3 separate regions of the Homo sapiens genome follow, and all the other regions are linked to region 3. Evidence: fine-mapped expression QTL. A gene starts in region 3. Each other region holds a variant in brackets. All regions are shown on one strand. Distances are from middle to middle. Region 1 has its middle 160 kb from the start of CAPN13. Region 2 overlaps LCLAT1 (lysocardiolipin acyltransferase 1). Region 3 holds the start of LCLAT1 (lysocardiolipin acyltransferase 1).

Region 1 (7,983 bases), 200 kb before region 3:
GCAACCTTTGGAGCTTTGCAGAGAGCATTGCCTTTGCAGCTCACCACTCCATACTTGAAGGGGTGAGAGCACGGACCCTGGAGCCAAATCTGCCAAATCTTTCCATCTCAGCTTGAACTCTGCCAGTTAGTAACTCTGTGACCTTGGTCAAGTCACTTACCCCTTCTAAGCCTCAGTTTCCTCACCTGTAAAATGGGGAGAGCAGTAGTCCCTATCTGCAGAAGGCTGTTCTTCGGTAGCTCCAGTGAACCACGCTGGCTCTGGGACAAGCTTTGGCCAAAAGTGATGCAAACGGAGGTTTGGCGAACATTTGCACATAGGAGCTCATCCTTTGGAATATTCCTTCTTAGAAAATTCAACCACCACGCCATGAGAAAGCCCAAGCAGGTGTGTGGAAAAGCCTGCGGGGAGGAGAGTCAAGGACCCTGGCCAAGATCCTCACTGAGCTCCCAACCAGTGGCCAGCACTGCCTGCCAGCCACATGACTGAGGCCACAGCAGAGCTCACCCAGCACCACAGGAGGCAGAAGAAATGCCTTGGCAACCCACAGAGCTGTGAGATAATGAGTGATTCTTGTTATGAAGTCACTAGGGCTTTGGAGGTTTCCTACACAGCAATAGAAAAACTCAAACACTATCTCATAGAGTTATAAGGAGGACTCAAAAAGATGATTCACATGTGTACAAAGCACAGTGCCTGGTGTAGAGCAAGACTCCATATATGCAGCTATTATTTGCACTGTGGTCATTTGATCATCATAGCAAGCTGTGGAATAGTGACCCTTATTGCTGCCCTTATACAAATGCTAATAGGTAACAAGCATGATACTGTGCAGTTTATAAGTCGCTTTCTCATACGTTATCCATATCATGGCAACATGAACCCCGAAAACATTAAGGGCCGTGCCCAAGATTACACAGCTCCTAAGTGGCTGAGCTAGATTCAAACACACATCTCCATAGCCCAAGTATAGTGTCAGTGAACCCCAAACACTGCCTCATGGGCCACAATGACTGGTCTTGGATAAAATGCAACAGTACAGAGACTTAGCTGCTCCCCAGAAAAGCTGACTTGGGATTGCGTCCTACCTATGTGATTTTAGGAAAAAACTTAACCAAGTCTTAAGTTCCACATCTGAGAAAGGGACATAATATGCTTGGCCCAGCTTTTCTCCATCACTGAATGCCATGAGATTTGAATCAAAGAATGGGTGGAAAAGGATAATGGATTTTTTTTTTTTTTTAAGAGACAGGGTCTTGCTATATTGCCCAGAATGGTCTCGAACTCCTGGGCCCAAGCCATCCACCTGCCTGGGCGTCCCAAAGTACTGGGATTACAGGCATGGACCACCATGCCCAGCCGATTTTCATTAGTTTTCTGTAAAATTCTTTGGCAGGGTCTGACCTCCTCCCATCATTACAGCAGATGTGCATCCCAAACAGGACAATTTGGGGTACAAATTGGTCTGTGTGCCCTGTCCTCTGATCAGGGAGAGCCTGGAAACATCTGGTTCCCAGTGGTGAGCTGAGGGTGAAGGGTGCTATTGGCCATCCCTGACCAGGCGTGACTCTGGCCCTGGGCCCTGGGCCAGAGGTATGGTGGATAGAAGCTGCGTTTTGTCTGCCTACCACCACCCCCATTTGGATATTTGCAAGCCCCTCTCATGGCTTATATCCCCTGACCTTCTTTTCATCTGGCCAAGAACCATGAAGCACTAGCCCGGCCCCTCCCCTGCTTGATATTTTCCTTCTCCTTCTCAATGGGAAGTTTGTGGGATGCTTCTGAAAAGTGAATGGGGAGCACAGAGCTTGGTTTAATGACATTCTCCCTTGGTGGAAAAATTGATGGCATCTCATGCCTCAGCATATCTGAGTAAAGACAGGAAGAGAATGAATAAACAAACCGCATGAATATCTGGGAAAAGAGTGCCCCCAGCAGAAGGAACCACAGAGCAAAGAATCTTGAGGCAGGAGTGTACACTTCACTCAGCTCCCCTAAATGCTGCCATCTTACATAGCCAGAGTACAGTTACCAAGCCCGAGAAATTAACGCTGACACAATATGATTAACTTATCGACAGAACATATTCACATTTCGCCAGGATCCAGTTCAGGATCCCACATTCCAGGTAGTTGTCATGTCTCTTTAGTCTCCCCCATCGACAACAATTCCTCAGCCTTTGTCTTTCTTGACCTTGACACTTTCAAAGAGGGCTGGCCTGCTGATTTGTAAATGTCTCTCACTTTAGGTGGTCTGAGGTTTTCTCAGGATCAGATTACGTATTTTTTGCAAGAATAATGTTGTGTCTTTCTCAGGGAGTACCTGACATCAATATCTCTTAGGCCTGGTGGTGTTGGCCTTGATCACTTAAGATGGTGTTTGCTAGACTTCTTCTCTGTAAAGTTTTATTTTTCCCTTTGTAATTAATGCTAGCTCCTGGGGAGATACTGCAAGGCTATGCACGTATCACGTTTCTCATATATTTTTACTCAATTCAGTATCCATCAATGATTTGTGTCTGCAACAATTATTACTGTGGTGTTTGCCAAATGGTGGCTTGCTATCTCCATCATTTTTCAACATTTATTAATTGGAATGCTACTGTAAGGAAGAGTGTCTCCTTCTCCCCATTTACTATATATTTAATTTTTTGTTACTATGAACTTATGAATATTTCCTGTACCCTGTGGGTTATCCGTTCTATCATTATTTTGTTGCTCAAATTGTTCCAGCTTTGATGTCTGGGGACGCCTTTAGGTTGGCACCTGTGACCTTTCGATGTGCCACATGAGGAGTTTTTCAGATACACCCAGCTTCACATTCCGATATCCTGATACCATCGTTCTGGAGCGAGGCCTGGCTTTTGGACATTCCCACAGCTCTCCAGGTGGTTCTGTTATTTAGCTTGGGTGAAATCCTTTGGTGTAGCTCAGTGTCATCAATTTACAGATGAGGAAACTAAGATGCAGAGAGATCAGAGATGGGAAGGGACGTGCTCCGTGTTACAGCTGTGGAGTTGAGGGAGCTGGGTCCACAGCCCTGTCTCCTGATCACCAGGCCTGGCTCTCCCCGACTCCTCCCTGTCTTTCAGAGCCCCGGCTGCCAAATCACATGCCAGACACAGACATCCAGAAAGTGGTTCTTACACCGGGGACACCCCAAGACCTTTTCAGGGGGTCCATCAGGTCAAAACGGTATTCTCTGCTCTCTGATTGGGTAGTGTTTGGGGAAATACTAAGATGTTATTTGCCTTTTTTACTCTCATTTTCTCAAAAGTGTACAGTGGAGTTGTCCAGAGGCTACATGACATGCGATATTCAGCAGGTTGACTGTGGAACAGGTATGAGAATTCAGCCTCTAGTAACCCAGACATTGAAGAGATGGGCAAAATGTAAAACAATGCCATACTTCTCACTAAATTTTTGTTTTGGAAAATAGTTATTTTTGATAAAAATTAATCATTTACTTTAACATATAATACATTTATTTTAAATATATACACATATATTCATAAACATAGATATATAAATATACATGAATATTATGACTATAAACATAGTCAAATATAAATATACATAATATACAAATATGAATATTTGTTACAGTAAATATTGATGGATATAATCCACATAAAGTTCTTTAGAGGCCTCAATAATTTGTAAGTGTGTAAAGAGGTCTCAGGACTCAAACGTTTTTCTAGAATATTCTAGAAATGGTTTTCTGCTTTTCTAGAGTATTCTAACCAAATGGGACATAACAACTTATAATAAAACAGGACCTACCCTCTACTACCTTCAAATCCTTTGGCACTGCTGGAATCTCGGAAAGTCTCCATCACCCCTTGACCTACCACCACCTGTCATGGCCCTAATGTAATCTGTTTCCACCTGGGTTATGTGCTGCACGAGAACAGCAGGCTCCTCATCTCTAATGCCTTCTGCAAAAATAAACACAGAAGGACTTAGCAGAATGCACGGGCAAAACACAGTGCACTTCACACACGTGAAAACAATAGATATTTCAAAATTAAACTATTTTAAAAGTTTCTGAGAAACAACAGGACAACTGAAATATCTGATAAGGCAATTAGCCTTTGAAGGAGCTGTAGTGGAAGTGCAATTCTCAAGTAGTAGCTGGAGCTCAGGAGTAGCAGAGGAATATCAGCCAGAGATGAGAAGTCCTTCTTTAGCATCCACACTCCTCTGGCTAGTAGGAGCAGTTTGTGCTAGTGAGTCATGGGGTGTTTTAGCCCCACAATTTAAGGAGGCAATGATAAAAATGCGGAGGTCATGTTGTTGTTTAGTTCAAACAAGTTAGAGGGAAAATAAGTTTCTTGAGCACCAGCTGTGTGACTGGTGCAAAT[A/G]TGAATAAGATCTAGTCCCAACCTTCAGGTCTGTGTGGTCTCCAGGAGACAGGGGAGAGGCCTTTAGGACAGCATAGTGGGCTCCATGATGCCAGACTGCATAGTGAGGCCTCTTCAGGAGCGGGTGCCACAGCTCAGCCAGGGCTTCTTACAGGCCACGAGCAAGGGAGCATCATTCCTCGAAATCCACTTTCTCCAGCCTGGCTGTGCGTGAGAATCACCAGGGAGGGTGCCTGTCTTCATTCTGGGGTTGGGTGAGAAGGCCGGCTGCCTGTAGTTTTGAAGTGTCCTGGGTGATTTCCATGAGCAGCCAGGGCTGAGGACCATGATTCTAAATCAGACTTTCCTCAGCCTACTATAGCCACCAGCAAGGACCAGCTGCATAATTTGCAAGGCTTGCTGCAAAAAGAAAATGGGAGGTCCTTTGTTCAAAAACTATTAAGAACTTCAAGACAGCGACAGCAGAGTATGGGCCCCTTTTGAGGGCAGGGCCCTATGCAGATGCACCAGTTGCACACCCATGAAGCTGACCCTGTCTCCAGCCACTGTTTCCCCCACAACTTCCCTAGAAGGACCCATGGCTGACTTATCCTCAGTGGCTCTCCTGAGCAGAATCCCCGGCTGGCTCCTCAAGGCAGCTGGCTCTCCAGCCATCATAGCCTCAGGATGAGTGAAGTTATCTCCACCAGAGGAGGCAGGCTGGGGACATCTTCTTGGCTCTGTGCACCCTTCTCCTCCTCGGAATGATCTCATGCTTCCTCAAAGCCCATGCCTGCTGTTGCCTGGCTGCAGGCGCAGCCTCACATTTGTCACTGTGCACTCGCACCCCCTGAGCAGTCCACCCCCTTCCTAGGCCCACTCCCTGCCACCAAAGGAACCAGCCCTGGGGAACCAAGTCTGCTGCTCCCTTCCCTGGCAGGTGCTGGGCATAAGGGGTTATTTCTTAGATGGAGTTTCAATCTTACAGCACGAAGAGTTGAAGAGAAGGGCCCTTTCTCCAGCCAGCCCATGGGATAGAAAATTCCCATTGTCAGCAAGGTGGATATAAATGGTAACAGGGAGCAGGCTGTGGTCATTTGTCATTTCATAATGGTTTCTGGAGATTGCACTGTCAGCTACTGTCCACAACACCTACTTAGCCCCTGGGCAATGGACAAGGTGGTAACAGGGTCAGTGCCCTGTGCTCACCAGGTATGTCTGGGAAGCCTTCAGGCCTGCCTGCACCCAAATTTTTGTACCAGATACAAGGCTATGCCTTGGCACAGGATGCCCTCTCTTGTTTATTTGCCCTCTTCAGTTCTGTCTGGTTGGCTTCACATTCTGGAAGCTAATGCTTCATAAACAGTGGTGGTTTTTTTTTTTTTTTTTCAGAAGGAAAAGAGTGTGTGTGCACATATACACACGTGTGCATAGGGCAAAGAATAAAGCTTATTTATTTTTTGAGATAGAGTCTTTCTCTTTCACCCAGGCTGGGGTGCAGTGGTGTGATCTTGGCTCACTGCAACCTCTGCCTCCTGGGTTCAAGTGATTCTCCTGCCTCAGCCTCCCGAGTAGTTGAGACTACAGGCACGTGCCCCCATGCCGGCTAATTTTTGTATTTTTAGTAGAGACGGGGTTTCGCCATGTTGGCCTCGAACTCCTGACCTCAAGTGATCTACCCGCCTCGGCATCCCAGAGTGCTGGGATTACAGGCATGAGCCACTGCGCCCAGCCAAATAAAGCTTATTTATGTTTGCATCTTCCCCAGTCCTAAGCCAGGGCCCCACATCCAGTAGTTAATATTTACTGAATGCAATCAACTTATAAATTACCTCGGGCTTCCAGAACACTTACGACCAAATGCTCATTTTACAAATGAGGGACCAGAGGCCTAGAGAGTGGAAGCCCTAAGTCTGAGGTCTTAGAAGAGCAAGCACCCTGGCTGCTCATGAGTATCACCTGGGAGCTTTTATGGCTCTGGAGGTTCAGGCTGCACACCTGAGCAATGAAGTCAGGGTCCTGAGGGTGGGGCCTGGATGCAGGTATTAAAGTTCTGCAGGTGATTCTAATGCACCTGGTTTAAGCGTCCTGGCCTGGGAGGGAGGAAGCAAAGCCTGGAGCCAGGCTGGGGAGAGCCCTGTCTGTGCCCTGCTCACTCCCCACAAGTGGGGATGCTTGAGAGGTCATGTCAAGGGGGCTTTTGGGGACAGTTTGCAGAGGGAGGTCTTTGGGGAGACCCTATTGGTGGCAGAAGAGCTGGCCGGATTTGATGAATGTTTATCTGGGACTCTTCCTGGCTCTGCTAAGGGACTCGCACTTTGGCTGGAAGTCCCAGGATAGGAAAAGGGGTGGCAATCCCCCTCCCGCATCCCTCCCAGAAGGTTCCTGAGTCCTCACAAGCTCCCACAGGCAGACGGCTATGGCGAGATGGTCTTCCCCATACACTGGCCTCTCAGCCGGCACCACAACTGCCCAGGACCGGCCGACCTGCTGCCTGCATTGACTAGGTGGAGTCCTATACCAGTTGCTTCAGAAGTAGACTCAAAACTACTTACCGTAAGTAGTAAAACCCTTAAGCTTATGTAGCACTTACCAGACTATTAGGTAGATGAGCTTCCATTTTCATTCTTCACAAATATACCCCAAAGTAGGTATTGTCTTGTGTTTTTGGTGACTGATTTCACTTAGTATAATATCCTCCAGATTCATCCCCATCGCAAATAACAGTTCCCTCTTTTTAAGGGTTAATATTCCAGTGTCTGTGTGTATGTGTCTCTACACACCACATTGTGTTTATCCATTCATCGACCAATGGATATTTGTGTTGCTTACTCCTTTTGGCGCTTGTGAACAATGCTGCTAAGAACATGGGAACAGCTAAGACAGTAACCAGTATAATTATACCATGGACTATTCAATCAGTTCCCCACCACAGACATTTAGGTAGTTTCCAGTATTCTTATGGAGAGGGCTATGGAGTTTTGTGTGTGCACCTTACAATTATTATCGTTTTTGTTTTGGCTAGTGTATTGTTGGAATAGGTTCTTAGAAGCAGGATTGTGGGACAAGGGTAAATGTGTAATAATTATGTTAGACCTTGGCGAGTTCTCCTCTGTTCAAGTGTAGAAGAGGGCATGGCGAAATCACCTGAGCAAGGCTTCCTGAGGGCACACATGTTGAGCCCACTTTTCTAAGAGTTCAGATACTAATATTTTGGTGAATCATATCAAAAATACTTTTATTCTTGTCAAAAAATCTATTTTCCAGAAGTAGATGGACTTGCACTTCAATTATTATTATTATTATTTTTGAGACAGAGTCTCGCTGTGTTGCCCAGGCTGGAGTACAGTGGCACAATCTCAGCTTACTGAAACCTCTGCCTCCTGGATTCAAGTGATTCTCCTGCCTCAGTCTCCTGAATAGCTGGGATTACAGGCGCCCGCCACCACACCTGGCTAATTTTTGTATTTTCAGTAGAGATGGGGTTTCACCATATTGGCCAGGCTGATCTCAAACTCCTGACCTAAGGTGATCCGTCTGCCTCAGCCTCCCAAAGTGCTGGGATTACAGGCATGAGCCACCACACCTGGCCTTTTTAAAAAAAAAAAATAAAATAAATTTAAATTTTATTTTATTTTAAA
Region 2 (7,983 bases), 100 kb before region 3:
TAAAGACATGGTAAGTGGTAAAACCAGATTTTAAACACAGGCAGTCTGACACCAGACTTGATATTTTTAAATCACGGTACTAAACAACCTCTCTGCATAGATACTTGAATCTTTCCACAGGTATTAATTACACATAGTTTATATTCTCCTTAGAGAATTATTTATTTGTCAGAGATTAGATTTTCCATTTTTTAGTACTAGATACTGTTTAACATTTTCCTTAAATGTTTACTAATCCTGCAGAGTCTCATATTTGTAAAGGATGTTCTAGACTGAACAATACTGACAGGTCGAATGTATTTCTGCATTGCAAGTGAGAATACCTCTTGCTCCCCATGTGGGATGGAAGTGGTAGCAATATCCATGAGGTTTTGCTATAAAACTTTTCTAATATTTTGTTACATATCTTCTAGAAACTCCAAGCCAATGTTTCTAAATCTTTTTTACTTCTTTTAGCTTAAATGTTTTTCTCTTTTTTTCCCGATAAAAAAATCACAGGAATACCTGGCAAGGGGTTTGGGTTTTTTTCCATTTGATTGTCATCAATGCAAATTGTATCCATGTTTAAAGTGTTACTCAGATTTTTCTTAATGTTAAGATCCTCAAAAAACACATTTTTATGACATTTATTTCATATTTCTATGAGCTAATGATAGCGCAACCTGTATCTTTAAAATCAGCATATATAATTTGTCTTTTTTTTTTTTGAGACGGAGTCTCGCTCTGTCGCCCAGGCCGGACTGCGGACTGCAGTGGCGCAATCTCGGCTCACTGCAAGCTCCGCTTCCCGGGTTCACGCCATTCTCCTGCCTCAGCCTCCCGAGTAGCTGGGACTACAGGCGCCCACCACCGCGCCCGGCTAATTTTTTGTATTTTTAGTAGAGACGGGGTTTCACCTTGTTAGCCAGGATGGTCTCGATCTCCTGACCTCATGATCCACCCGCCTCGGCCTCCCAAAGTGCTGGGATTACAGGCGTGAGCCACCGCGCCCGGCAATTTGTCTTTTTCATACTTTTCCACTGCAGGATATTCTGTCTTTAACCTGAATTTCTCAGACGAGGGCTGGGAGTCTGGCAGGTTTATAAAGATAGAATCTATATATACTGGCATAGCTCCACTACCACCATCTTCTTTCTAAAACCTCATTTACGTTATCAGCATCGCCTTCTCAAAGCAGTTGTAAATAATCCCTCGGCATACTCTATTGTCCAAACCTATCTCATCATTTTAGAACCTAGTTTTGACTTACATTCCCTTTTACCAAGTTTTAGCGTTGCCTAGGGGGAGAAAAAAATAACCATTTACTTGAATGTGTATTTTGGCATTATGCATTCTTAATAAAAAGTAAGCCTTTTCACAACTTTTTTTTTTCATTTCAGTGTAGATGAATATAGTTAACTGAGTAATGAAAACATCAGCACTACTCACCTAATGCTCTAATAACTCAATCTCAACAATAGGGTAAAATTTATCACTGCTGTCCTTGTAGTAACTCAATATGGCATCTACTATGGCACTATGAATATGACACCAGAAGAAAAAGCAGGGCGGAAGAAAGACAGACAACTGCTCCTTCGACATTATTTTCAATCCTGAATAAACGATGTGGATGCAACCACAGAAATGCTACCCATAGGCCTCTATTAAATGAGAATGAACAATAGGAACAGATGCAAATTTTATATAAACTTTTATCACAAAGATCATAAGAAAATACTGTATTTACTGAGTATGGATCTGTCCATAATTAATAGTAGTTATACAAATAAATCAGGGAGTTAAGTAACAAGTAGTTATACTTTTCAGAATTTCAACTTTTATTAGGGTGCTAAATGCTGGATAGATAAAGTTAAGGAAGATCTATCTTTTCTGAACTCACATTACAAACTGGGTAATGCTCTCCACATCCCTCTTCTAAGATGATTAATTTCCACGAAGGCTTTTAAAAACTCTGATGACAGGTAATTTTATGACATTTTTGCAGCAACAATCCTGTTGTAGTATGCCTGTATCATTAGGTTTCAAATGTGACTGTGCTGAAAATACAAGATAGAAATCAAAGTATAAAATATGAGCAAGTAATAATTACATAATACTCTAACAAACTTAATTCTAAATATAATTTCAAACTTGACACACCAAAAAGTGGAGAAAAATGGAGAAACCACTTGTACTACAAATTTCACTAGACTCCACAAACATAATCATATACACATGCAGACAGTAAAAATTCTTGCTTGACAATGAGGCTTCTTGGTCATGTTACAATTTTGGGGTTCATGTTAACATGAGAGAGACCAAACTCATCTTTCATATTATATGAGATTGGAAATTTGACCAATTTTCTAAATGAGCTATTATCTGAGATATTTCTTCCTGTTGCAAAACTGATTCCTAAGTACATTCCTAGCTTTGCACACTGAGAGGACCTATAATCAAAGACATCCCAGTAGCAATTAACATATGGTAGGCAGAATAATCATCCCCCAAAAGATGTCCACATCTTAATTCCTGGAACTGTGAAGGCACTGTGTTATACAGCAAAGGGGAATTAAGATTGCTAATCAGACGAATTTAAGGTAGTGAGATTAGCCTAGATTATTCTAGTGGGCCCAATGTAATCATAAGTGTCATTAAAGGTGGGAGAGAAACCCCATAAATATATACCTACTATGTACCTATGAAAATTAAAAATAAATTTTTTTTAAGTGGAAGAGGGAGGCACAAGATGACTTAGTACTGATGTGAGAAGGACTCAACCAGCCAATGCTGGCTTTGAAGCCAGAAGAAGGGGCCACAAGCCAAGGAATGTAGGCATCCATTAGAAGCTAGAAAAGGCTAGGAAACAGATCCCGTAGCAATCCTACAGAAAGAAACCAGTCCTGCCAATGCCTTGATTTCAGCCCAGTAGAACCCACATCAAACCTCTAAAACTGTTATATAATAAATTTGTGTCCTTTAAACCACTCTATATTTGTAGTATAAGCTGCAATGGAAAACTCATACAGAGCATAGTAAGTGCCTAGATTTTAGTTTCTCACATCATTCTTCATAAAAAAAAGGGATCTAGGGCTCCTTAGCGAAATGCTGAGTCTAGGGATGGGGCAAGGAAAAATACAAGATGAACCTGGAGAATTTAAAGTGCCAAAAAAATAAGTGGTTAAAAGAAAAAAGATGGTAGTATGTCAAAAGGACATAAGAGCCAACCTTCAGGCACTCCCAGGCTAGGCGCAGTGGCTCATGCCTATAATCTCAGCACTTTGGGAAGCCAAGGCAGGAGGTTGGCGTGAGCCCAGGAGTTCAAGACCAACCTGGGCAATGTAGCGATACCCACCACTTCTCTACAAAAAAAAAAGTTGTTGTCTTTTAAAATTTATTTTAAATTAGCCAGGCAAGGTGGCATGTACCTATAGTCCCAGCTATTAAGGAGGCTGAGGCGGAAGGATTGCTTGAGCCCAGGAGGTCAAGGATGCAGTGAGCTGTGAACGCACCACCGCACACCAACCTGGATGACAGAGCAAGACCCTGTCTCAAGAAAAGAAAACTCCCAATGGCCAAAGCTGGCCATTACTTTCAGCAGCAAAATAATGATAGTACCAGATTATAATCTAAAAATTAAAATAAATATCAATGAGTCCATATTGATATTATTAAATTACTAATTAAATAAATGGGGAGTAGGGGCAAATATTTTCCACAGAAGTATGAATAATATATATAAATAGTCTGCACTCCAGGAAGTAGAGCTTCATTCCTTTCCCCCAACAGCCAGCCTTTGAGTGTGGGCTGTGCTTAGTGGATTGAGTATGTAAATGTAAAGGGGAAAACAGCATCTTTGCAGTAAAGAAACCTGACAGATACCACCTTAACTAAGTGATTAAGATTAACATCACCAGTGATAAGCCATGTTGATATCATGAACCTCTGACATGAGAAGGGTACTCCACCTCTACAGTATTCTTCCCCCAAGCCTACAGCTCTAGTCTAATCACAAGAAAACATCAGACAAACCCAAACTGAGGAACATTCTACAAAATGTCCAACCAGTACTTTTCAAAGGCACCATGAAAAGCAAGAAAAGACTATCACAAAATGAAGGAAGACTAGGAAGATACAATGACTAAAAAGCAAGGTGGTATTCTCAGTTGGATCCTAGAACCACAAAAGGACATTAGTGGAAAAATTGGTGAAGTCTGAATAAAGTCCATTGTTAATAGTATTGCACCAAAATTAACCTCTTGTTTCAACAGATATACCATATAAGATGTTAACATCAGAGAAGCTGGGTGAAAAAGATAGGAAAATTCTCTGTACTGTTATTACAAATTTTCAATAAATCTAAAATGATTCCATATAAAAAGTTTACTTCAGAACATCTATTTGTTGATGCAAACTTGTGTTTGACTAAAAAAATACACAAATAATGGCCATTTTCCATTCAAAATCAAGGCCTAAATAATCTTACTTGGAATTCGCTTACTATACCATATTACTTGGTTGTAA[T/C]AATTGAAGATTATCAGTAACAGCATTTCTAAAGATATAGTTTTGACATTATTTTCATTGTGGAAGAACATTTTTAATTCTTGGCTACATAATATGTCCCTGCCTGGTATTCATTACACAACAGTGTAACACTCAGAAACATCTGACTTCAAGCATAAGGAAAATATTTTCTGTAAGATTTGTTATATGAAATAAATGGAGAAAAGCCATATTTTTTAAATGACATATATAATAAATACAACAGCTAATTCATTTTCCCCCAGGTCTTACAATGTTGCCTTTCTCTTTTAAAATACCTGCACAATTTACAGATACTTAGCCCCAAGACAAAGAACAACTGAAGGCATGGAAGTCAAATTATCTATTAAAGTTACCAACTATGAGATACAGAGGGTTCATCTTGCATATCTTTTCTATTATTATTGCAAAGTGCCATTTCAAAGTTGGTTCAAAACTGATTATTATGTGATTTATTTCATTTGTGCTTTTCCACCAAATACAAAGCAGATTCAAAACCCTAAAGCTCCCTCCAAATTCTGAATTTCTTTCTACTGAAGTTACCATTATAAAAGCATATCTTTTAGATAATTTTAGAATGTAATTATTAATTTAAGCAAAGGAATTCCTCAATTTTCAGCAGACCTAAGGGTACTAAAAGTACTAGAGGTGAAATTCGCTTCCTAGCTCACATCTGGGATATCTAGCAGCCTAACGCAATGTAAATTTGCTGAGGTATTAGAAATAGTACACATCAACAGGATATCCAATTTAGGTAACCAATTGCATTAATGTCAGTAAGTGATTGATTAGATAACCTTAAAGCCCCCAGCCATTTCTCCTGGCCAAAGAAACTGTCAACTTCACACAGCTCAGGGCTTCAGCTCTGTTCAGAAGTCAGATAACACATTCAAAACAAAAGCTTCATTTAAGTTATTTAGATTTCAATGCCATCCTAAAAAATTACTTAGTTCTCAATGTCATTCTAGAAAGAAAGGTAATCCTGGTAAAACTGCCTGGCAGATGATTTAAATGAATTGAACCTTTCTTTTCTTCCCAATGGAAGAAAGTAAAGGCTAAGCTCTAATTTTTTATCTTGCCCAAATTCCTTTCTAAGGGATCTAGGGAGTCATGCCCTACAAACCATAAATTCTCATCACATGAGCTTTGTTTAACCCTGTATATTGTGACTTACTTTCCAGTCTTACTCAGGCATAACAAGGGAAAAAATCAAAATGTTTTACCCCAAAATATATTACCTTGCCATACTTTGAAATTGCCTTGTAAAGTTTTTTGTGGGAAAAATCCACATTATATAGATAATCCCCTTATCCCTTTATTTTCCTTCCTTTCTTTCCAGATCTAGGAGATAATCAGCTAAGAGCCAGACACCCTTTTAAATCTGATAAGAAACATTTTACAACCTGCTCTCTCTCTGAAGTTTGCTATCTGAGAGATTCCTCTGCACAAAAAAACCTGGTCTCCGCAATCCTTTACCTTAACCTAAACAATCCTTTCCATTAATCCCAGGTCTTCACATAAACTCGGCCAATTGTAAACCAGTAAATGTTTAAATTTACCTATAGCCTGGAAGCCCCTGCTTTAAGTTGTCCCACCTTTCTGAACCAAACCAATGTATTTCTTAAATGTATTTGATTGATGTCCCGTGGCTCCCTAAAATATATAAACCCAAGCTGTACCCCGACCACTTTGGGCACATGTTCTCAGGACTTCTTGAGGGCTGTGTTACAGGCCATGGTCAATCACATTTGGCTCAGAATAAATCTCTTCAAATATTTTACAGAGTTCGATTCTTTTCGTCAACAAACGTATATCCCCACTACTTACCACCCTCCCGGCCATGCATCAAAACTCATCTCGGCCAAGCAATGCTGGCAACCAAAACTACAAAATCAACAATTACCAAAACTTTATGTTTCAAATACCAATAGAATTGCTAAAATGAAATAATCTGTTATATATCTAAAAACAAGCAGAGATGTATGTGTGTCTTCCAGGCAACAGAACTAAAATATGTTTAACATATTCTACTTTATTTGATGGTTTTCATAAAAATTTTCATTCATGACTAGCATTAATAAAATTTACTGAACGAGTAAATCAAACAATGGATACATTTCTTATGGCTTGGTGAAATAGGGGAAAGCAAGTTACATCAGGATGCTTTTGGCTATAAATAACAGAATACCAATCTAAAAGTCATATAAACAATTTGGGTTTACGCTTCTCACGTAAAATAAAGTCTGGCCCCAACGCTAGTTCAGGAGCCAGGATCTCCCACTCTACTATGCCATCCTCCTGATGTCTGAGGACCTCCCCCTCTTTGAGGGAATGCCTGCAAAAGTTCCAAGCCTCATGTGCTAACACAATACTGTCCACAAGCAGAAAAGAGTGGCACTGGACCTTCATTGACTTCTTTCATCTTATTAAGGAGGAGTATCTTTCCCAGAGACTCCAACAGACTCCCATAAGACCCTTTGGTTAGACTGGCTCAAACAACCATCCCTGCTGACAGGAGGCTGAGAAAGCCAGTATCTGGTATTTTCATTCTCTGTCATAGGATGTGTGCATCACAGTGGTTCACTGTTAAGATTAGTAAAATACTACTTCTGACCTTTAGTTATTAAGTAATATGTGGAATAACACAGAGGAAGAAGGCTGTTGTGAAGCTTTATATGATTATTTAATAGGATACCATAATCTTATCAATATAATAAAGAAGGCCAGGACATCAGAAAGTTTGCTGTGACAGTAATAGCTATAGCATAGTTAATAAGTAGCTAGGAATCCTTGACTAGAAGCCCCCTTTGAAGAAAGAGTCACAGGTGGAGCTTCAAACACACTAGCTGCAGAGATTCATTCCAGGAAGGCTCAAGCTGTTGTTACTTTTGGGTAATAAGGCACCTTTACCTACTGTAGGTAGCAAAACTAATGCCTATGATTGCACTAAAGGAACTGGCAGGAGTGGAGTGTTACTGAGTCCTGTGGGGGCTTAATTTGGGAAGGGACAACTAGCATGTGAGTTTCCTGGCACAAAATCGCCAATAAGATGAATCTATTCATCTTAATACATTCATCAATAAGATGAATCCATTCATCTTATTCTTGTTATGAGCAGGAGGGCAGCATGAAATTGTGTTGAATTAAAAAAAGAACCCACCAAACTGGATAGAGTCAAAAATATTCATGACTTTGTTCTAATTTTAGTGAATGTCTGTTTTAAGTAGGAGGAAGCTGGGTAAGAAAGGGGGAGTTTTCCTTCTCACAGGAGGTAAAGTTAGGCATTATAGATTTTAAATATGTCAAACAGACATCTATTCTTTGTGGCTAACATGTGATAGTAAATAAAATTAAGGTGACTTCAGTAAATTTAGTAATTCTTAAAACTGTGTTAGCAATGGCACATTTATTTACACAAATTTATTGTAATGTTTATAAATACATCAATAAACTACAGATCAA
Region 3 (7,983 bases):
TAACCACCACACATCTCAACATATAAAATGTTGCCAGAAGGTTCCCTCATGCCCTTTCCCAGTCATTACCACCACCACCAACCCAGAGTAATCACTATTCTGACTTCTGTCACCAGGGAAGTATTGTACTTCTTTGTGACTTCATTTAAATGGAATCATGCAGTGTACAATCTTATGTCTGACTTATGTCTGTAAGATACATCCATGTTGATACATATATCCATAATCCATTGTCTTTTACTGGTTTTGCAGTGTTTCGTCTTATAAATGTATCACAATTTACTCATCCATTCTACTGCTGATGTACAACTGGTTCTGCAGTGTTTCATCTTATAAATATATCACAATTTACTCATCCATTCTACTGCTGATGTACAACTGGTTCTGCAGTGTTTCATCTTATAAATATATCACAATTTACTCATCCATTCTACTGCTGATGTACAACTGGTTCTGCAGTGTTTCATCTTATAAATATATCACAATTTACTCATCCATTCTACTGCTGATGTACAACTGGTTCTGCAGTGTTCCATCTTATAAATATATCACGATTTACTCATCCATTCTACTGCTGATGTACAATAGGTTCTGCAGTGTTTCATCTTATAAACATATCACAATTTACTCATCCATTCTACTGCTGATGTACAATTGAGTTATATCCAATTTTTGATTATGAATAAAGGCACTATAAACATTCTTTAACATGTTTTTTAGTTTAACATGCATTAGTTTCTCTTGAGTATACCTAGGAATGCAAGCATTTGATCACGGGTAGGAGTAGACAAAGCCACAGTCTTCCAAAGTGACTGTACCATTTGACATCCCCACCAACAATATGTAAGAGATCCAGTTGGTCTACACCCTTGCCAACACTGGCCCCCACCAACAATATGTAAGAGATCCAGTTGGTCTACACCCTTGTCAACACCGGCACTGTCCATCTTTTTAATTTTAGTTATTCTGGAAGGTGTATAGCAGTATCTCATTATTGTTTTAATTTATATTTCCCACTGGCAAATAATGTTAAGTACCTTTTTATGTGCATACTGGCCATTCTGAGACCCTCTAATAGACAGTGCCTGTTCAAGACATCTATGCATTTTTAAAATGATTTTTCTCATTAATTTTGTTTATGCTACACACACACAAATAAACACACACACACGGTATGAGTCCTTGGTCAGATATATAAATTGCAAATTTCTTCTTCCGGTCCATATTTTGCTCTTCATTTTCTTAGTGGTGTCTTCAGATGAAGAGAAGTTTCCAATTTTAAAGAAGTCTGAAGACAAATTTATCAATCATTTTCATGATCATTGCTTTCTGAGTCCTTTTTAAGAATCTCTGCCTATTCCAGGCACTAGTCCTTTATTTGCGCTTATGGTTTCAGCAGTTCTCCCCCTTGCTTTGACTTCATGAAATCCTGCATCTTTTGCAAGATTTGCACACCCTACCTTGTAGTCGATTTGCACTGCATTCATGTTATGTTGTTAGGTGCTGGACAACTTTAGTGTTACACACGTTTAAGTGGAGATCAGCTTTAAAACTAGAGAAACCATCAGTGATTACTTCCATATTACAATGATTTCTGTACAAATATATTCAAAACCTAAAGTAAAAAGAAAAAAATTCTAACACCCATTATCCTAGCATTTTTGTAGCATAAAGTGGAAGCTATGCATCTAATCGAGATCCTTCTACAGTTCCCACTGCCCGCAGGAGAGTTCCCACTCTCTTAGCTAAGAGTTCACAACCTGGCTCTAACCTTTCCTGGCTTCTCTCCCAGCAACACCTGTAATACTGTGGTCTGACCCCTGGACACCATGAGCTCTCACTTGTCCTAGCTTTGCTCTGTTTCTCCCTACGCCTTTATCCTCCAGTTAGCTCCCTTCCTCTTCTGGCCAGGCCCATCCCAGAAGAAGTAACTGTTCCCTTTTATGTGCTCTCACAGGTCTCTGTACCCACAATTATATTTGAGTCCTTATCATGCTTTATTAGTTAATCATTTATTTATTTGTCTCAACTGTCTACAAACTTCTGGACCTGGGACTTCTCCCTGAACTCCTCAAGGGTAGGGTCAGGAGTTAATGTTTACATCCTAAAGACTTGGCAGGGCTATTCCATAAAGGTTCAATGAAACAATAAATGTCCTAGCCACTTTTACTCATCCTATTTTATTAATAAATAAAGACTGGAAAAATTAGCACAAGTATATCAAAACAACAAGCTTAACTAAAATCAGTTTTCTTTTAAAAGTCCCCCAGCAAATTATTCTTTTAAAAAATGTAATAAAAACAAAAATCCCAATTATTGATTTGTGCTTCCTGATAGAAATTAGTCATAACTAGCCAGGCACAGTGGCTCACACCTGTAATCCCAACACTTTGGGAGGCTGAGGCAGGCGGATCACCTGAGGTCGGGAGCTCAAGACTAGCCTGACCAACACAGAGAAACCCCGTCTCTACTAACAATACAAAATTAGCCAGGCGTAGTGGCACATGTCTGTAATCCCAGCTACTCAGGAGGCTGAGGCAGGAGAATCGCTTGAACCCGGGAGGCAGAGGCTGTGGTGAGCCGAGATCGTGCCATTGCACTCCAGCCCTGGCAACAAGAGCGAACCTCCCTCTCAAAAAAAAAAAAAAAAGAAATTAGTCATAACTCTGTTTCAAAATAACTTTTTAATTAATGGGCAACACAAGTAAGAAGAATATACCACTTAACCAAAGTAAATGTAATTGTTACCACACAAATCACTATTGGACGCCAATGGAATAAACCATGATTATTATTTACACAAGATCACAAACAAAACTACTGGCTTGAAATATGTGTTCATTCTAGGACATTGCTAGAGCCTTTGAAAAAGAAAAATATATATATTAAAAATGAAAAATTTGTACATGAATTAATGTTTCCCCTTAATACATAACACATCTGTATGTCATAGGAAGATAGTAGGCATGGTGGTAGTAAGACAGTAAGAACACAGGCTGGAAACACAATGCTAATTGTGTGATATGGACAAATTACTTAAACTTCAATGTGCTTCAGTTTCCTCATCTGCAAAATAAAGATAATAAATGTATCCGCCTCACAGTGATGCTAGATGACTGAGTTGGCACATATAAGTCCCCGGATTCAGTGCCTGGCAGAGTACATGAATGCAGAGGAATAAATTTCAAATATTTTCACTGTTTTTTTAACTTTTTAAAGCCCTTTCACACATACTGTCTTTTCTTTTTCCTCCCAACAGTGCAATGAGATTGTTTGAATAAGAAATACTCACTTTAGAGATAAGACACCAATAGTGAAGTTGTATGATTACCCTAAGATATTTTTAAGTGGCAGAGTTTGGACTAGAATCCACCCATAACCTCAACCCCAGGACAAACTGACCAAATCTCCATGGATCCAGTTTGGAAGAATCTTTTGGGTTTTCCCCATTGCTTCCTCCTGGTTGTCAGCAACAGCCAGCCTAAAGACCTGGTGGGGGCAGATGCAGACGACCATGTGTTCAAATTAAAAAGTAGGAGAAGCCTAGCTTTCACAGAAACTGACACATAGTTGGCACTCCAGAGATTGCAGCTATTGATGACTGAAACACAAGCGCTATTACGTTTTTCTCAGTTACAGAACAAGGTACTACTCCATAAAATCAAGCCTACTACCAAAAACAAAAGTCAGTTAACATTATGCTTATCTGTCATATCAAGCATATCAAAGTACAATGTGCAACAGAAACCTAAACGAAAAAGTGATGATGTATTTTTACTTACTCTCAAAAAATATGTTTTACAAAAAGGGCTTTCATCAAGTCAGTTTTTTGAAAACTAACCCACGTAGTTATACTTCATGAGATGACGTTTCTTTGAACAAATAAGTTAATGATATGAATAAATATTTCATCTTGGTAATGCCTTCAACACATATCTTCAATACTTTTCTTGGACTTAAAGTGACTTCAATCCCTAATCTCATCTACTGCCATGTACACAAGAAACACAGTTAATGAACTTTAAAGGCAGATGCAGTATTTCCAGGGAAGCCACCTGAACCAGGGAAGTACAAGAAAGCAAAACATCTCCACAACCACATCTAAGTGCCTTATCTTTCAACTTCTTTTCTTCAAATGGGCAATTAGAAGCTACGATACACCTTAAAGATCAGGTTTGGCATCCGCCCTGGCTAGGGCCTACCTTTCTTTTCGCGGCACTGCCACTCTGGCACCTACAGGCAGGCCTTTGGCGCCTGCAGGACTCGCAGGGAAGACAACCCCAGCCCCTGCTCTCCACGGCTCTCGTCGAAGCCCCGCACGTGGTGACCACTTGAGACGTTTTAGTGCATGGGATTTAACAGGGTCAGACCTCAGGTTGCGTTCCGGGACAGTGCAGCTCCCAGACCCGCTGAGGTCGCAGGAGGAAGGTTTTGACGCTCCTAGCGTAAACACCGACGGGACCCTCTTCGCCCCGCGGCTACCTCGCCCTCGCCGCTCGCGCGGCCCCTCAGCACCTGACGCCTCAGCCAGCCTCCAGGAGTCGCTTCCCCGCGCCTCCTTCCACCTGAGCCAGCGACGCTACCGCCACCTGCACCGGGACCCCAAATGCCAGGCCAGTGGCCGTTACCCGAGGTCGCGGCCCGGGGAAGGTCCATGGCTCAGGAGGAAAAGCCCGGGCTGCAGCTCCCCTTCCTGCACCTCTGAGATCCCCCGGCCGCCGCCATTTTCCTCGCGCCGTAACCCCACCTGATAGTTCCAGCCTCCCACCTGTGACAAGCAGGGCACGCCGCGCGACGCCGAGTGGGGTGCGTGGGCAAGCTGGGGCTCCGTAGGGGTCACAACCTCCGTGCGGAACCCGCCGTTAATTCATCCCGTAACGCGGAGGCGTCCGGCCGTCGCCCTAGTAATGCGTCCCGGAAGGCTACGTCCTGATTGGCTGCAGGCGCCGTGACGCAACGGCGTCCCCGGCTGCGTGGGAAACCCGGGTCCCCGGCGCCCCGCGCTTGCTCCACAGCCCGGGATACCCCGGGTACCTTTCTTTGAGAGCTCCTTTAAAGAGGCCTCGCTTATTTCCTCGTCTGGCCTCCTGGAGAGGAGGGACCCACGGAACGGTGGGGTGTAGGGGTGAGAAAACAACGAAATAGGAAATTAGCGGAGGTCATTTGTCCGAGGGAACCTAATGGTTCATTCAACCCCTAGAGCTGCAAAATGGAAAACAGAAATCTGGGAGTTTAATTTACAAGCCTAAATTTGGTGCGCGAAGTCACAGGACAAATCAGTAGTAGAAGCAGTTATAGAACCCAGGTTCCCTGATCAGGAGCACAAAGTTTTTCTAGCACACTCAGTGTTTCCCCAGTCCTAGAAAATGTTTCCTCCCAGTTCCCATAGCAATTTCATCACACTGCTCTTAAAAGGTCTCGATCACCTATCATGGTGTGTCTGTCCTGTCCCCTAACCTACTAGATTGCATGCCCCTGAATGGTGGGGACTGTGGTTAAACCCCTTTTCATTTCCCTTAAGCAATTCCCTCCTCAACTTGGCCTTCAACAAATACAATAAGAATCTTAAAAATAATAAACATAGCTACACATCACACACAGCCACTCATCAGTAGTTCATGTATGTCTATACGTTTTATCCGTTTATTCAACAAAGCACAGAGTGAATATTTTTAAAATTACAAGGTTCCTGACCTCACAAAATTTATGGTGTAATAATAATGACCATCTACATGTTGGCTGCATAGCTTCAATATAGCTAAATTATATCCCCAAATTGCCTGTAAATCAAAGATTCTTGTGCTCTTTTCCTAAATTAGCTTCATAATTTCTCTAAGTTTGTTCCAAAACATTTTAATATTTAAGATGTGCTAAAATTGCATCAGAAAGTGAAGAATGACTACAGAGAGAAACACCAGAACAAAAGTCAATTCTGCCAATTATGCCTATGACTTTAGGCCTCCTTTTTACCTTTAAAATAAGATTACTGGAATAAAAGATCTCCCAATTCTTTTTTGTTGTTGTTAAGAGTTGGCCTGGCTATGCTCCAGAACCTTCAAGGGCTCTACTGTGGTTCTTTGGGGGCTTGCCGGAGGTTCCTCATAGCCTTTGCAGCTCCATTGCAGAGAGCTCTAGCATTGTGAGGTGTGTCCGGTGATACAGCCCAAGAGGCAAGGTTGCCCTTACCGCCCTAACCACAGAGGACAGTGCTGGGCTCTTTCTTTTTTCTTTTCTTTGCTTTTTTTTTTTTTTTTTTTTTTTTTGAGACAGGGTCTCGCTCTGTCACCTAGGCTGGAGTGCAGTGGCATGATTGTGGCCCACTACAACCCCTGCCTCCTGGACTCAAGCAATCCTCCCACCTCAGCCTCCAGACTAACTGGAACTACAGGCATCTGCCACCATGCCCAGCTAATTTTGTGTTTTTTGTAGAGACAGGATTTCAACATGTTGCCAGGCTGGTCTCGAACTCCTGAGCTCAAGCTATCCACCCACCTTGGCCTCTCAAAGTGCTGGGATTAGAGGCTTGAGCCACCGCGCCTGGCCCTGAGCCCGTTCTTGATCTGAGCTACTGATCAGTAGCCACCTTCCACGTCAACTGCTAAAGGGATAGGAACAGAATTCCCAAGGGCAAAATATGCTGATTTCTAAACTCAGAGATCTGCTAAGTGTCATGCTTCTTTCTTTTTGGCAGAGGTGCAAGGTGTAGTAACATGTTTTTCATTCTGGGGAAAATGTCTTGACGTGCCCAAGATCATTGGACCACTTCAGCATCCAAAATGATGTATAGTTTACATAATGCTATTGTACCAGGATCATTCTTTGTTTTGATACATGTTCTATGCTTACACAAGATGTTGACATAAGGGGAAGCTAGGTAAAGAATATATGGAAAAATCCCTGTACTCTCTTTACATCTCTCCTAAGTCTAAAACTACCCCCCCAGTTTTTTAAATAATTATTTTAAAATATCACCAATGTAGCAAGCTCCTGAATTTTTGTGGGGTTTATCCGCGTCTGAAATGTATGTATTTCATCAAGACATCCAGAGAAGTAGTCCCCGACCTTTTTGGCACCAGGGACTGCTTTCGTGGAAGACAGTTTTTCCATGAACGGGGTGAAGGGTGAAGGGGGTGATTTCGGGATGATTCAACCACATTACATTTATTGTGCACTTTATTTCTATTATTATTACATTGTAGTATATAACACTTAAAAAGTGGTGTTAATCTGTGCTCTACTGTCCCAAAGGGACAAGTTTCTCAATCTTTCCTGACCCCAGTAACAGAGCATCACAGCTGATGAATTGCTGAACCTCATGAGCCATTGACTTAATGGTCACATTTAATAGGGCACTCTCTGTAATGCTCAGGGACACACTATGACATACAGGAAATCTCAAGTCCTAGTTCTTATTGTACTTTTGTCATTATTGGGGTACTTTCTATGCCCATGTAATTGCTCACTCCTCTTCAAAATGTGAGAGTAATAAGGGAAAATCTGTGCTCAATAACAGACCTCAGAAAAGAGCCAAGTACATTGCCGCCAATAAAATCGGAGCAAGTCTCTCCCAAGGTAATGAATACAAGCAACATGCAGCCCAGTGCCAGCAGAGGCCACAGATACTTAACTGGAGGCCCAGAGTGGCCCATTTATTATAGCCTACAGTTTATTGCTTGCAAGCAAGAATTGCAAAATTTCTTTTGCAATTCCCTCTTTGCAAAAATTTCTATGAATGAGACTTAGCATTACCTAATATCACCAGTCATCCAACGAGATTCTGAAATTCAAAAGGCATTTGAAATGAAATGTTTTAATTTCTTGAGACATGGAGTAAGCCATGTCTTTGGTAGCTGAGGAGTTTTGGTGCTAGAAGGTACAGCTTGGAAGTAGTGACAAATTTACATTAGCACAAAACAGCTGTGGAGTCTAATTATTAATAGTTCTGATTATTCTCTTTTTGCTCCATCTCTCCCCTTCCCCGTT

Evidence for each region. PIP is the estimated chance that this variant, and not a neighbour inherited with it, causes the effect.
Region 1: its variant is the best candidate, but not a certain one, in a credible set for the expression of LCLAT1 in lung (TOPMed, PIP 0.65).
Region 2: its variant is the best candidate, but not a certain one, in a credible set for the expression of LCLAT1 in whole blood (TOPMed, PIP 0.87).

The regions. Positions count from the first base shown.
Region 1 is chr2:30,646,626-30,654,608 of GRCh38, reverse strand. No RefSeq gene overlaps it. Among named protein-coding and RNA genes, the nearest start is that of CAPN13, 160 kb to the left of the region's middle. RefSeq lists enhancers at 1,072-1,802, 1,803-2,534. The variant A/G (reference allele first, on the strand shown) is at 4,364.
Region 2 is chr2:30,546,546-30,554,528 of GRCh38, reverse strand. The region is part of intron 3 of LCLAT1 (lysocardiolipin acyltransferase 1); the gene reads right to left. Among named protein-coding and RNA genes, the nearest start is that of LCLAT1, 100 kb to the right of the region's middle. The variant T/C (reference allele first, on the strand shown) is at 4,504.
Region 3 is chr2:30,444,169-30,452,151 of GRCh38, reverse strand. LCLAT1 (lysocardiolipin acyltransferase 1) reads right to left here and starts at 4,906. Exons shown (of 6, transcript NM_001002257.3): 1 at 4,769-4,906. RefSeq lists enhancers at 3,742-4,478, 4,676-4,795, 5,006-5,065, 5,106-5,175, 4,479-5,216.